Linked DNA regions of Homo sapiens: region 2 is linked to region 1. Evidence: fine-mapped expression QTL. Tissue or cell type: whole blood. Region 1 holds a variant in brackets; the other region holds the start of a gene. All regions are shown on one strand. Distances are from middle to middle.

The links. PIP is the estimated chance that this variant, and not a neighbour inherited with it, causes the effect.
Region 2: it holds the start of DHRS9, and the variant in region 1 is fine-mapped to the expression of DHRS9 in whole blood (TOPMed, PIP above 0.99).

The regions. Positions count from the first base shown.
Region 1 is chr2:169,103,640-169,111,826 of GRCh38, forward strand. No RefSeq gene overlaps it. Among named protein-coding and RNA genes, the nearest start is that of DHRS9, 38 kb to the left of the region's middle. RefSeq lists enhancers at 6,385-6,885, 6,886-7,386. The variant T/C (reference allele first, on the strand shown) is at 4,183.
Region 2 is chr2:169,066,326-169,074,512 of GRCh38, forward strand. It overlaps DHRS9 (dehydrogenase/reductase 9), which reads left to right and starts at 3,238. Exons shown (of 5, transcript NM_001376924.1): 1 at 3,238-3,392.

The sequences.
Region 1 (8,187 bases):
GAGTTCAAGTTCAGCACCATAGAGGGGATTTTTGTACCACTAGGAGTTGGATCAAAGGGCAGCTGCCATTGGCAGGCAAGCACAGGAAGGACCACCCTTGGAATGGGGATGCCGGAGAAGGGAGTCAAGCAATATGGGGTTGCATTTGCTGACTTGGATGACATTTGAGGATTCTATGGCTGGACAGGGTCTTTCTTCAAATATGGTACATACCAGCATAAAGAGACCTAACCTTTCTAATCACTAAAACCGTGGGATGTAACAAGCCAAATATCTCTTGCTTCAGTTTTCATGAGGCCTGGAATTTCATTTCTTCAAGACTTGAAAGAAGCGCCTTAGCTTCTGATGAGGAGAAAGGAGGCAGCTGCTGAAAGGAGAGGGAATACACATCAAGATCAACTAAAGCTAAATTTCAGATCTTGCCCAGAAGCAGCCCCGAGGATTAGCACAGCGAAAAGGAGGCTGGAAGGATTCTTGGGGCAACCTGCAACCTGGGCATCCATAGCTAGTTTAATTGTGTGGGGGTGCAGTTGTCAGAAACATGTGCTCACTTCTTAAAACAGGTGTTATTAATGGATCCAGTATAAATTGAACAACAAAACTAGGAAAGAATATACAGTGAAATCTTAGTCTTCCTCTTCCCAGGCCTCTGGTCCCTAGCTAGGACTTTCTCCTGTGTCATTGCTGAGATGCATATATATAGACAATGTATAGATAACCTTTTCACATACTTTTTACACAAACGGTAGCATAGCTAGACTCCACATTTTCTCTACCTTGCTCTAAAACGTTCAAATTTTAATGAACAAAAGACTAGGAATCCTAAAAATAATGTTCACAGTCATCATTTTCAAATCTGGCCCTCCTTAGGCAATAGATGGCTATGATTCCATCAGTTTTACTTCTTCAGTGCCTGACTTAACCAACATATTGTCAACGAAGTAACAAATACAGACAGGCTCTCTAAAAGAAAATGATGTTTATTTGGGAGTAGGGCATTGCAACGGGAATGCAGGTGCCATAGTAAACTATGTGTGCATTCAGGGAGGTAAAAAAAAAAAAAAAAAGACAAGGAGTTTTAAAGGAAAAAATGAGAAGGATACATAATTATTTTGAAATGATTACCTTTGGCTACAAAGATCAATAACAAGGGTGATCAATAACAAGGTCTGCCAGTCTGAGGTTGGGCAGACAGTTCCTGGGAAGATGTCTTTGCAGAAGTATTTTTTGTGTAAGGTTGTGATGGCCTTTGTGCAAGGTTGTGGTTGTTGCAGTCTTTTATGTTAGACTTTTTTAAAATCAGGCATGCAAACATGAGAACTCTCTCTTCACAGCCTTCATAGCTCTATTTGTGAGGGTTTTTTTTTTTTTTTAACACAAGTGACTCCATTTTGGTTGTGACAACTTCACAACATGAAGTCATTCAATATCGATGCTGTTATTCCTTCATTAAATACATCTTGAAGTTAATATTCCCTATGCTCTTGTTTCCTCTCTAATTTATTGCAGCAATTATATTTACCCTGGATAAAATAAGAAAAAAGATAATTGTATTGACTGTAAGCAATTCTTATGAGTGTAATGCCATTTATCAACAATAGCATTTATAAGTGGAATCACCAATCCATTAATAAATCATTCTGAAGGTAAGTTACTCCTCTAAGTAAAGTTAATTAATTATTTCAGGCAACTATTTAGAAAATATGACCTTCCCTTTGCTGATCTAATTCCTGAAGAGTGTTTGATTTACTAAGAGTCAGTTCCATGATACCAGCAGTCAAGGCTTCTAAAAGTAAGACATTGATTGAAACTTTCCCTTTATTTATTTCTTAAACCTGTTCTGTTTTTTAAATGAGTACCAGAGATCCACTTACTTGACTATTTGCAAAAAGTAGCAAATGAGGCATTAACAAAGTTGCCCTGTCTGATTCTAAAACCTAAACCTCTTTGACAGTTCGCTGTTAAGTAAACCACTTCCCTGCTGTGAGGAAATGGAGTCATCACACTCATTATTACCTTGAAATGACAGGGGAGCTGTTATGGGTTGAAATATATCACCCCAGCAAAAAATATATGTTGGAGTCCTAACCCCTACTACCTCAGAATGTGACCTTATTTGGAGACAGCCTCTTTACAGAGGTAATCAAGTTAAAATGAGGTCATTAGTGTGGACCCTAATCCAATATGACATATGCCCTTATAAAAAGGAAAATTTGGACACAGACACATAGGGGGAAGATAACATGAAGAGACGCATGAGAAGATAGCCATCTGCAAGCCAAGGACAGAGGCCTGGAACAGATCCTTCCCTCACAGCCCTCAAAGGAACCAACCTGCCAACACCTTGATTTCTGAATTTTAGCTTCCAGGAGTGTGAGACAACATTTTTCTGTTGTTTAAGCCCCACACTCTGTGATCCTTCATTATGGAGCCATGCGATGATGGGGCTATGGCATTGGCTTGGCAGCATGATGGAGTGAAACACTCCTCAGGAGTTCATCTAGCCCATCTTCTTGCCTCTGAGCATCTTTCCTGGATGAGTACTTTAAAAAAATGGTGAGAAATCTGTCTAGAAGTGCCTCATAGGTGGTCAAGAACAGAGACTCTTGGATCGAGCTCCTGGGGTCAAAACCCATCTTTGCCCTTAGCATTGGCTTGACCATTGGCATATTACTTAATTTCTCTTAGTTTTCTCATCTGTATAATGGGGGTGGGTGTACCTTGGACAGTTACAAGAATTAAACAAGTAAATGCATGTCAAATACAGCATAGTGCTTTTAATGTATTGTAGCTATGAGTATTATTCATTTTGTTGGCACTTTTTCAAATTAGCTTAGGTTCATGGCAGAACCTAGCTATAAGTTGGCCCGCACCTTGATCTGTTATTTGAATGGATTGGCCAAGGTCGAAGACAAGGACAAGAGCAACACTCTGACTTTTGTTCTTCCCTATTGTATAAGTTAGGTGTAACGAGAAGAGATCCTCAGCAGAACACTCAGAATGATGAGAGGAGATCTGAGACCTGTGGGGAAAACAACCACAACAAACATCCATTCATCACCATTTTCTCAGCACCATTGTGGGGAGTCCTACCCATGGCTACAGAGGAATGGCCCAAGATGGAAGCCTGGCCTGGCAATGCCTTCAGTTACCAGAAGGATGTTACTATACATAGTGGCAAAGTTGCAAGGCCCTTCAGGTCGCCAACACTCCTCCTAATTTCAAAGAAATTACCAGCAGGTAATTTCAAAGAAAAGGGAATAGAGGCCCTGAAAGGTGAGGAGACTTAAATAATACTATGTCAGATTCAGGACAGAGCAAGAGTTGGATACGAAGAAATGGGCTTCCTCTATTGCGGGAAAGATAAGAGAGTTCAGTTACACAGCAGGAAATCTGACCCCAGAGACTGACCAGAATAGAGAACTAAGGGCATGACACCCTCAGCCCTGTAAAGTTGTAGAAATAAGATGATAATGATGATGATAATGGTTATTACCAAATGTTGAGCAACTGTTCAATAACAGCACTAATTGTGTGTTCATTGGCTAATTGTTAATTAAACTGTGTTAACTGTTTTGCATGCGTGGTTACCTCATTTAATCTTTCTACAACAACCTTGCAAGACTATGAAGAGGAGCAGAGCTCAGATAGGGTATGAAACTTATCCAGAATCTCAGAGCTTAAGGGATAGCAGTTGGGACCACCAACCTCTACTTCAGACAGCCTCCTGCAGGCAGCAACCAGCAACAGATGCCGCTAAGGGCCCTTCTGGCTCTGTGGTTGTATGTTTTTAGAATATCTAAGTCACAGCCATGAGAAGTTTTATCTTTTATCAGTGAAGTCAATTCACTTGGTCATATAGAGTTTTGAACTATGAAAACTATTATTATAAAAAATAATTACCACAATCACTTTGGAGAAAGAACAAGTTCTCATACCAAATCTTTGATGAATTTGCGTCTGATGTTTTCTGTTTTTTTATTTTCTAGAGACAGGTTCTTGCTATGTTGCTTAGGCTGGTCTCTAACTCCTAGGCTCAAGTAATCCTGCCACCTCAGTTTGCAGGCAGCTGGGACTATAGGTATGCACCATCCCCGGCTTGCATCTGGCATTGATTGTTTCTGTGTTACCATAAACTTGCAGAAATACTTGCTTTTCCGCAAGGTAATGATAGCAGCACTT[T/C]CCCTTGCACTTTTCTAGCACAGTGTAATGAAATGCAATAGAAACCACAGGAAATACTGTGGTCAGGTTTTGAACCTGAGCTATCACCCTCAACCTGAACACTGTGACAAAGGTACTGTGAATTTTTTTTTAAAAGGGAGGTGACATAGTGAGGAGGTCCTGGTCCTTTTTTAGTGTCAAATCAGCCTGGGCATGATGAGAAACACCATTGGAGGAAGACTGAGGTACCTGACTCATGGCTGTTGGTTACCAATGCCTCCACTTAAACCCAAACTAAGAAAAAAACAGGGGGACCCCACCTAGGAGGCCCTCTCAGCTCCCAGAAGCAGTCTGATGGAGAAGGGATGTGATAGGAGGCCTGCCCTTGTGAGAACTGACATATTTCCTACACTTAGCATTTTATTTGGCTCCAAGTTAGGTGACAAGCAGATCCTAAGTGCCTTCTGTTTTCAAAGCCAAGTAGAGATTGCATAACATCTCTATATCTTATCCCTAGATGGTTAAAGTACCGATTGCTCTCTCATTTCAGCAGGAAGTGAAGTAAGACCACCTACATTTCTGTAAATTGCCAAGGAAGCTTGCAAAAGGTACAGTATGTACCCAAAATAAGTTCATACAGAAAGAAAGTGTGAATGAATAACAGCAGAAAGATATATCCTTTGTTGGATACATTTTATGTAGATATGTGCTATATGCATCATCTAATATAATCTTCTCAACGACCTTATGTGGTAAGTGCCACAATGATGCCTCATTTTACAGATGGAAAAAATAGAGATGTGAGAGAGGTAAGTGTTGTGCCCAAAGACACACAGATGCATATGTACACAGGGGACTAAACTGGGACTCAGCTGTCTGCCTTGTCAGACACTTGTGGGCCTCTCCATCAACCTGTCTCTTCCCACACACAAAGCGACTTTTCAAAATGACCTATTCACATGTTCTAATTCACTTCCCTTTCTTGTAAGCATTTAAGCCTGCAGCAAAAGCAGCTGTCTGTCAACTATTTTCTTTTTTTGGGTAAGCCCACATTTACCTGTGCTACCTATGTTACCAAGAATCCCTCTTTTCTCCTTCCATAGTAAAAATAGAAGACAGAAGAGTATTTTCTAATTAATCCCAACTCTTCTGCAATAGAAAAGTGGCCCCAAAGAAGTTGAAAGGAAAAGAAAATTGAAAGCTAAAAGGTTTTGAGATTTGTTAGGAAAACATTTTGACATTACACTGGAGTGGGTCACTGCGAAAACTGATCCACGACTTTTAGTGAAGCTAGAAGCAAGACATGGCTTGTCCTGGTCTGGAGGTTCTGTGCCAGCCATCCCAGGGAAGGTAGACCCCTATTAGTGAGTCACCTCACTCGGCCCGATTGGCAGCCCAGGCTCCAAGGCTACAGCCTAACAGTTTCTCGTAATTGTCAAAGAGCAAATGGCCACATCTAAGCTGGAAATGGTTGCATGAGCTATTTTAGGGTAAACCTTAAGATTTACTTTGAAAAATCCATTAAAACATCCAAAAACACACCAAAAAAAATCCTCTCTATATTTTTATAGACAGACATGGCATATTCATGAACACAGCCCATGGAAGCAGTTTCAGATTTCGGATGAGAGACAGCCAACAGGCAGAGGGGTCTAACGTTTGCTGAGAGTGGCAGGCACTTCACAGATGCTGTCTTTACTCTCACAGGATTCTCCTTATCACCCTGAAATAACACTTATTCCTGCCACCATTTTGAAATTATCGCCATCAATAAGGTTAAGTGCTTAGTGCAGGGTCACGCTACTGGTTAATGGCTAAGTTAGGAGTTGAACCCTAGTCTCTTTAACTCCCAAATCCAACCTCTTTCCACTGCGTGAACTTGGTCTCCTCTGAATATTCGGTGGGTAAAGAAGTCCTGGACACAGATCACTCTCCCTCCCAGTGGTTGTGGTCTGGATGCAGCTTCCAGGGGACTGGACAAGCTGCTTCCTGAGCGGGCTCCCCCTCCCCACTTCCATCCCTCCCCGCAACACCCTGGCCCAGGGAATGAGTGAAAATCAGTTGAGATTCCTCTCCTTATTCCCGCACCTGGGCTCAATTTTTTGCCAGGATTAGAGCACGCAAGCTCAGTGCTCTCAATTGGACACTAGGGGGCGCCCTATGCCCACAAAATACCTGGGATCCCAGTAAGCGTCCCGCAGCCCCTGTTTGGTCATATTGGAAAGGAACAAGTCCGTCCTCTAAGAAGTTTCACTTAAATGGACCAAAATCTACCATGGTTTGAAAGAAACCTGGTTAAATTACTGGGATTATCTAGTAGGCAAGCTGTTTTGGACAACCTAAAGCCAACATACTCCTAGTTCAGTAGTGCTATGACAATACTGAACATATAAAAGGACAGGTCCCCACTCCACTGTCTGATGGAAAACCGCCATCCTCGCAGCCCAGCCATTGCTAAGGTCTAGGATAACCCGGAGTAACCAGAACACAGTCGATCAATGATAAACGTAATAAAAAGCCAATTGATCAAAAATACTCCAAGGTATACAAGAAAAATAGCCCCCATATCCAAAGCGCTGCCCATCTCCCGCGCCTCAGTTCGCTGCATTTGTTCACCTTTGTGGAGAGGGAACAGGCATGGGTGAAGTTGGCCACTTGGAGAAGCTGTTGTTTGTTGCACCCAGGAAGCCCAGAGAGCAGCAGAAAGAAGGAGCCGTGTGCTGTCATTTGGTGAAGCCTAGGGCAGAGGCCCCAGGTGCCCGCCTCTGCGCTGAGGCCTTTCAAAGCTGTGCTCTTGGCAACAGCCTTTGAAATAACTGGGTGCTGGCAACACAGGCTTGGCATTAATATGCAAATAAGAATACTTCAGGCTCCCACTTCATGCTTTTGGATCGTTTTAAAAATCCAGCCACTTACCATGACTAACATAAAATAAAGGGGAAAAAAAAAGTGGTACGACCTTCGCTTGGTTTCTCCCACCGACCTCCTTGTGCTGGAGCCAAGCACTTTTCAAACCAGAGAGAGATAGGGCTGGGGTCTCAACTAGAAGCAGGGACCGCTTAGGGCTAAGGATATTTTCACCTCCCCTTTCTAACAAAAGCTTTGGGATGAATAATAGGCACCACTCAGCTCCATCAATCAACCTCAGTTGCTCTATTTTCATTGCTACCGAGATGTATAAAAAGCTAAAGTTTGCTACAAAGCCCCCATCGAGGCCTTCAGGAAATCCCGGGGAAGCTTACTGCGGGGATGGCTGTGAGCTTGCCAGGCGGCGATTGTGCACATCGTTTCCTTACAGCCTCCTTCCTGCCGCTCTGCCTTCCGTGCCTCTTCCTTTGTTTGGCTGCTCGCCTGAGATGGGCCTGCAAGGAGACGCCCCAGAGGCAAGCACGTCTCTATAATAAGATGTGACGCGAGTTTGGGGAATTTGCTGGCTATACATCATTATAAAAACGAATTCTACATCATTATCCGTTGCTTTTCTGAGACAGGAACGTGAGCGGTAAGGCTCTCCTGTCCCTAGCGCTCTGAGAACAAGGGCAAGCACAGAGCAGGTGTTGACTAGCCAACCTGCCAGTGGCACTAGCAAAGTGCCCTGCCAGTGGGAGAGGGACAATCTCAATACAACCTGAATCAGCTGTCAAACTAAGCCTACTACAAACAGCTGAATGGGGAAGAAACAAACAACACTTGTTGAAGTCCTTAGAAGATGAATTACATCTGTTTCAAAATTCCTGGCACCCTCTAAGAGGAATCAGAGTTCATGGGCATTTCTTTGCCTTGGTATCCTCAGAGAGCAGGGGACTTCGAGCTTTTGCTGTAGGGATAGTGCCATGAGATGAAGAGCTGGAAACAGGGGAGAGACTATGTTTTAACTGATAGCACGGAACCAGGAAGAGGTAGCCTTGCATCAAATGGAATGGGATGACAATACTAACATGGATAAAAAAGAAACCCTCCCAGGTTCCACCTCTGCATGCTGGTAAACAATGACCTCCATGTCCCCAATCCACACTCACTCACCTG
Region 2 (8,187 bases), 37 kb before region 1:
CAGCTGCATCTAGCATCTGCTCTTAATTTCATTTGATATTTTATCATCTCAGTTAAGATTCTGGGAAAAAGAAGTTGCCTTCTTTTTGAAAGGGATTGAAAGAAACTAGGAAACTTGGCAGGAAGATCATTCTTAAGCCAGGAAAAAAATTTTTAATGCTCACATGTGAACATGTGATGGTCATACCAGAAGGAGCACCCACCTCCCTCCCTCTGTGACAGACACATTTTCTTAGCCTTCACCTTTCCTTCTTTCAAGTTGCTGAAAATCCACAGTGTTTCTGTTCATTTGTTACTTTCATTCTCACCTATCTTCTCTCTTGCTCCATCTACCAGAACAATAATTCCCCATATAATACTTCTCACTTCACTTTTCAACGCAGGACCTCTTGTTGGGTAAGCTAAAAGGATATGTGCTCTGTAAATAAGAAAAATCTTTATTCAAAGAATCTATCAAATGTTCCCATGACTCCATCTCTATTTGTATATCTAAAGATTGCATAGTAGAGAAAAACAAAAGATTAGCCCTGCTTCATCTTACAGCTGGGAGAGTCATGAAAGGCCAAATGGGTAACAAAGCTCCTGGTTTTGACCAAGCCTAGCCAAAGAAGCTACTCAAATGTCAAAGGCATTGTTTGTATAAAAAGGGAACCAAAGTACAGGTTCCCTTTACAGTAGAAATAAGAGAACTCCCTGTTGACAAAGGGAGGAGGAAGAAAATATAAAGTACACTTTTAAAACATGAAGTCTTCATAGCAGCTTATAGTCGTTCAGAGAAACATGTTCCACTGAGAATGACTTGAGAGAGAGGATTACATCATTATGCCAGAAGGAAGAAGCCACTGTGCATGCTCTATCACCAGCCTCACCCTCCTGGTCAGCCTTACAAGAGTGACACTGGATATACTCCAGAAGTTGGACCCACCACAGCCTGCACACTGGAGTAAGTGCTTTCCTCCAGTTGAAGCTCATCTTAGAATGATCTGTGACTTAGACCATCCCCAGAATGGTGTAGTTGCAGGAAGCCTAACGTATGTCTCCTGAGACAGCCTCAGATCTGAGTTTCCTCCTTATGTTTTGGTATTTGGAAAGGGGTGGAGAAGATACTCTTGGGTAGAAGTATGGGAGGCATACAGATTCAGAAGAAAAAGGATAACTCTATCTTTAGTGTGTTGTCTGTGGTGGCATCTAGCCTTACCACTGTATACTTACATTCCACCTACAAACATTAAAATAAAATGCACAGTGCACTCCTTTGTTTTAAAAAGGAACTAGGAAAAAACTCAAATGGCAATTTGGTTCCAGATTTTTTTTTTAATGTGATCTTTGATCTGAAGTCAATGTAGGATGAGTTCTGAACAAAGTAGCACTTTCAAAGGTTGTATATTAAAGAGGTGAAATGAAAGACAACTTGGCACTTGAGATATGAATTTGAATGTGTATATGGTTACAGTCTGGATAAGACACTGCTAACATGACTTCATTAACTGATCGCCTATGTGGGACCATTGGACAAGGAGAGGGGGTGTTCTGGCTGTGGTGCCATATACTGAAACTGAACCCATGAGTTGGGCCCACAGGAATTGAGGGACAAGCCAGATAGATGGCAAGAATTCTAATTTCCAATATGCAAATCAGTCTAAACATTTGACTTTTTTTAAGTCTATTTGGAAAGTTTTTGAAACACGGCTGCACTAGGCGAGTTCATTAAGTAGCAAAATTTTAACTATTGTTATAACTTTTTCTTTGCCCTTTTCAGTTAACACTGCATGACCACCCAGGTGCATGAGGCTCTCTTCTCCTCTTAGTGACAATAACAGGCTCACAGGAAGGGTTCAGTATTAATTATTTATACCTTACTTCATGTGGCTCTAAGTCAATGTATTGTCTATGAGGTTTTATATTTAAGCCATACTTATGAAATGCTAAAGAGGAAAAAGCATATTTAGCACATTTGGGGCACCCTAAATGTGAACCTGAGTAAATTTCAGTTTGTTTGTTTGTTTGTTTTTGTTTGTTTTGAGACGGAGTCTCACGCTGTTACCCAGGCTGGAGGGCAATGGCGCGATCTTGGCTCACACGCAACTTGGCCTCCCAGATTCAAGAGATTCTGTCTTAGCTTACCAAGTTGCTGGGATTACAGGTGCCCACCACCATGCCTGGCTAATTTTTTGTATTTTTAGTAGAGATGGGGTTTCACGATGTTGGCCAGGCTAGTCTCAAACTTCTGACCTCAAGTGATCCGCCCGCTTTGGCCTCCCAAAGTGGGTTTGTTGTTCTTTTAAAGAAAAAAGACCACTACTTATTTTAAAGGGTGATAGCAGTGTCCTGACTCTACCTAGACAGATATGTTCATTCATGTGCTCATTCCAGTTGAACCATAATAACTGCAATTTTCAAAGGAGGAATACAGAGTCTGGGAAATCAGAAGAGTATAGCAACAAACTGGTATACGAGGAAACTGAAAATGAAAAATCAGCAAAGTGGTATTTGTACCTGCCTGAGTGGCTACAGTGGTGAAGGTGAAGGGTGGCAGGCTAGATTAGCACCATCTCCTCCCCTCCTCGCCTGCGGCCTCAGTACTTTCCACTGTGGTCCCAGGATACGCCAGGTCAACTGTGATCAACTCTGACACAGACAAACTCTGGGAGGGGAGGAGGCATCCTTTCCTATTCTCAGCGGTCTCAGTTCCAGAGACCACTTTAGTAAGCTCTCCTTGTCATACCTTAAAACATAAATTAAGACCCATAAGTAATTCCAAAACCTCATTTTATTATGTTGTTTTTATCTCCTTGCTCGCCCATCTTAAAAAAAATGGTAACACCAATCTCAGAGACTGATTTCTCCTACTTATTCTCTTAGGAGGGAAGGAGTGTTAAATAAGCCAAGGCATGCTAACAGGAAGGAAAAAATGGAGATTATGAAGAATAATCACAATTTGAAAACTATTAAAACCACGCACCAGGCAGTTTACAAAATATTTATTTCTTTGTTATATTATTTCTGCTGCTGAATTTGGTCAAGAGATTGTACTAATCATAAAATGAATGTTATTGATCATTTTAAAGTCTCTTCTAAAAGTAGCTAAATTTATACTGCTGATTCCTTTTGAAACATGCGACCTACAGCTTCTTGGCTTTTATGAGCTATTCAAGAGATATTTAGTCATCACGTTGTGTCACAATGGGAGTGACTCACAGAGCAAGGAGAGAACCTGAGGATTCCTCACACATGTAGTACTCAGAGCTCTACGGAAACCCAGGCACCTCGACCTCAAGAGGATCAGCCTGGCCAGGGTGGCACAACTCTTCCTTCCCCGTGCACAGCAGGAAAGCTGCCATCAGCTGAGCAAGTCCACCAACAGTTTCTGTGTCCCACTTCATCTTTAATAAGGTAACTGATGACAGTTTTGTCATTTATTCTTTTATTTATCAAGTCAATCTAAACTTTCTTTGATTTTCCTCACTCTTGCAGAATGAATCGGTGGTCTTTCAAGCTGTGGTCAATGTTGCTACTTCTTTTAATGTAACACATTAGAACCCAGTGATGGGAGCTGGGTCCATCTCACCATAGAAATGACCTCGGTGTGACCTGGGATCTTGCCTTGAACTCCTCCAGGACTCTCTTTGAATGTCCTTTAGCACCCTAGTGTCCCAATTCAATTCATATTTTATTTTCTCTGTGCCTTCTTGACACTATCTGTGAATCTTATGATTAATTGGAAACTGGAGGGGGAAGTCTCCAAAAAGCACAGGATTCTTAGATGAGTTTCTTACTGAAGCAGCAGATTCTCTGTCAACTGCAGGTCTGATCTGTTTGTCTGTCCGCTTTATCAATATTATCAGATGTAAGTTTACATGAATACACACACATATTCACTAAACTGAGGGGAAAAAATGCCTTGTAGGTCATAAAAAAGCAGGGAAATTCCCAACAATTCATATTTGATCCCTGGATCCAGGGGTGGCAGCAATAAGCCTGCTTTAGATATTTACTCCCCATTTTATGATCCGGTGGTTTGGTTTTTCAAATGATGATATGGCTCCTTTCGCAATGACTTGATGTTTAGGAGGTGTGCTTCAATAAATACATTTTAAAATCAACAATCAAGTTAGAGTTGTACAAATGGCTCTGAAATGTCCCACTACACTGTTAGACCAAGGGCACAGATTGTGCTTCTGTACTATTTATCCTAGTATCCCTCGGCATATATTAACTGCTCTAAAAATCTCCTTGGCTACACGCTGCATCAAATCAAAGTTAAATGTTATACCACCTTTCTATTCTATTTTTAATATTCAAAGAGGGTGCTCAGATTTTAGAACAAATTTCAATGTTTAAGTACACACAAAAAAATCATTAACTCATATATTTCAAGAGTAGGAAATGGGAACTGGTGTTAAAACTCTTATAACAAATGTCACTGTCTTAAGGGACAGTGTTTAAAAACGCATACCTGGCCGGGCGCGGTGGCTCATGCCTGTAATCCCAGCACTTTGGGAGGCCGAGGCCGGCGGATCACAAGGTCAGGAGATCGAGACCATCCTGGCTAACACGGTGAAACCTGGTCTCTACTAAAAATACAAAAAATTAGCTAGGCGTGGCAGCGTGCGCCTGTAGTCCCAGCTACTTGGGAGGCTGAGGCAGGAGAATGGTGTGAACCCGGGAGGTGGAGCTTGCAGTGAGCTGAGATCACGCCACTGCACTCCAGCCTGGGCGACAGAGCGAGACTCCGTCTCAAAAAAAAAAAACAACAACAACAAAAAACTCAGACCTTTTCTTCTGCTCAAAGATCACTGTGGCTGAAATATACTGAAGTTTTAAACACACTTTTGGAACCTATACATATGTTCTATGTTCTAAGCTTTCCTTAAAGCCTTGTGACTACAAATGATAACTGTACACAACATATAATCTTTCCCAGATAGCAATTGTTATGCAGTGACCATAAATAAAGTAATCATAGCTTTAACAATAATTTGTAACCTGCTAATACTGTCAGGAAACATTGTCAAAATAATAAACCTAGGAGGGACTTGGGATAATTAATGAATAGTTAGGGATGTGATGGTGAATTATAATTTAAACGTTTTGAAGGAAGGCAAAAGAAAATCAGAGATGCTTTTATCCTTAGAACTAAAAATGCAAAATGTAAATCCAGCAGATCTTCCCTATTTGAGGCAGTTGGTACACCTCTGCTAGGAGGGAGGGAAGCTACATCCTGAGGAGGCTGTCTGAGTGAATCTGTAGTGGAAGTACACACGAACTCCATGCCTCGCTGTCCCAGTACCCAAAGCACAGTCTGGCTGCCAAGGATTACCTCCTGCCCTCAGGGAAGCAGGAATCAAGGGCAAATGTAACTAACCAGAGGAGGAGCTTCTTCATCCATTGAGTAAGGGAACTTACCCTCCCACGACGATAAATACCAACTCAACTATATCATCAGCAGCATAATAATTATTATAATTGTTATTTCAGTCAGACTCTCAAAAAAGCATTCGTTGCTTAATGCAAGCACATTTAATGTAGGGTCCCTTGGTGCCATTAAAAAATTTTTTTTTCAGATTTCTGGGTGGACCATTTGAACACATTTCTCACAGAAACATAATTTTTTAGTTTATGTCAATAGGTTCCAGTGTTCATTTTTTTTTAAGTGTGGAAGAAATCTCTAAAAGCCACCTGGGTTTTTTTTTTTTTTTTAAACAAAACAAAACAAAAACCAGTTTTTTTTTACTTCAATGAAAAGGAAAAAATGAAAAAGGAATGTTGTGTTAAGTCAACCGGGTTTACAATATTCAAATATACAAGAGGCATACATGTTCAGTGGCTTTCAGTATTCAGAAAGCCATGCAAGAGAACTCCAAAAAGAGAATACTTTAGAAAATCATTGCTCAATGTTTTCTATTTGATGTATTTTGGTAAACAACATAGTTGTTGATTCAACTTGGGCCACAATTGCAACACATTGGAAGTAAATAAAGATTCTACAAACTCCTGACAGTGTGGTTGACTAGCTTTGGTATCGCTTTCTAAAAGGAAACACTTCATGAAGTTATGTGGAAATAAAATCAACTGGTCTGGGAGGAACTATCTAGAAAGAACTCTACATTGCTTATAAAAAGTATACCTCACAATAATATTGAGATATTTTCTGTTCTTTTTTTTAAACTGTGTCATTTATTTTTAAGAAACAGAGGAAGGTGAATAAGAGAAGTGAAATTAAATAATCCTATTTTAACTTTTTTACTAGGAAAACAAACTCAGGAAGAAAAAGAAAAGCAGAAGTGATCAAGGAGAGCGCTCGAGTTGCAATATTTTCCTTTGGCTGCTGACAGGCAGTTACTATAAAGCATTGTGCATGGTGTATGAAAGACAAAACTAGTTCTCCTTTCTTGGTTTCTTTTGAATCTTTGTGATATGGTAGAGAAAGTTTGATAAAGTGTTCTTGTGCCTGCTGTCGACTGATAATGTGTTCATCTCTTTGCAGTTCTTCCTTCTCTTTCACACAGTTTAGAGTTCAGAGAGTTTTAGTTCTGGTCACTCTCTGGCAAGTGACCATAGTTATGACCTCTACTCTACACCAGAAATATCTTGACAATTACATGAGATAAATATTACATAAACACTTCCCAAAACTTTGTAATGTTATCAAAATTGGAAGTGTGAATATTATGTATTATTATAATTGCTATCATCCTTTTGCCCCAGCGATTCAGAGGTCTCAAAGATTAATCCAATTATCACTAGAACTCTGGAGCTACAGTGGAGACTTCCTTCTTTCCTTCCTTTTTTCCTTCTTTGCTGTACAACATTTACTAAACATCAACATAATGCCAAGTATCATACAAGGAACTGGTAATGTAGAGAAGTATATGCAGAGCCCAGAGTTGAGTGGGAATACAGACTGCAGTGGTAGAACAGAATGGTCTGGGTATCAGTCCCGGAATTGCCACTACAACTGTAGCTGGAGCCAATTAAACAGAGCTTCTGAATGTGTTTCCTCCTCTATACAGTGAAGATAATTTTGTCGTAAGGTGTAAATAAGATAAATATTTATAGATCCTAGGAAACGGCCTACAACATGTTAGGCACTCAATGAACCATAGCAGTTATTATCATTCCTCCCTGACTTGGTCAACCAGGAACTTGAGAATCATAGATTTGCTAGGAGGATATTTTGAATTCTGTAGGGTCAGTTGGCCACCCACCAAAGGGTACCCCCAGAGGAGCTGGGGGTCAACAGCATGGGGTAAACCTTGAGGGAGGGAACAGATGGGAGGTGATTGGATGAAGAGATTTGGGTGAGGACACAGAGCCAAACCATATCAGCCTCTTATCCTCCTGATGACAAAAAGACATTTTAAAATATTTATATAGAGGGAAATTAATGCTTGCAGCAGCAGGATATGAGTAATTTTTATAAGTAACCCAACTTTTCCATGAGGCCATTAAAAAAAGAAACTCATCAATGTGATACTACCAAGGAACCAATGACTAAGTTTCCAGAAAAGTAGTTCTAGTGCTATGATATTCTGGACTCCCAACACTAGGAAGTTCTAGAACAGTGGTTCTAAACTGGGGGATATTTTGTCCTCCAGGGGACATTTGGCATTATCTGGAGACATTTTTGGTTTTCACAACTTGGGGAGGGGTGCTACTGCTGACTAGAGAGTAGAGGCCAGAGATGCCACTAAACATGCTAAATGCACAGGACTGACCCCACAACAAATAATTACCTGGCCCAAAATATCAAAATTACTCAGTTAGAGGAATCAATGCCTAAATATGAGCAATACATAGAGCAGACTGCCTCATAAAGTGAAAGTGATTCACCCTGCCATGAAGATAACAAAGTTCTTACTGTAACGGCAGACATTAGGTCACTTCACCCAGTACTCTCCAAGGTAGATGTTGTATTTCTACTTTACAGGTAGGAAAATGGAGGCTAAGAAAAGTTAATTTGTCCGAGGGCCCTCTGATGATAGTGAAACTGGGATGGAACCTCTGCCTGCTTGCTTCTGAGGTCTGGGCTCCTAACTACTGCTCTACTGCCTCGAGCCAAGAGATTTACGCCCTATTAAGCAATTTGTTGTGCGATAAATTGGAAGACACAGCAGATAAGCAAACAACTCAAGCAACCAGGTCAGTTCCTGGAGTTTCTGAATTGTTGGGACCAAGGGGCCGTGCA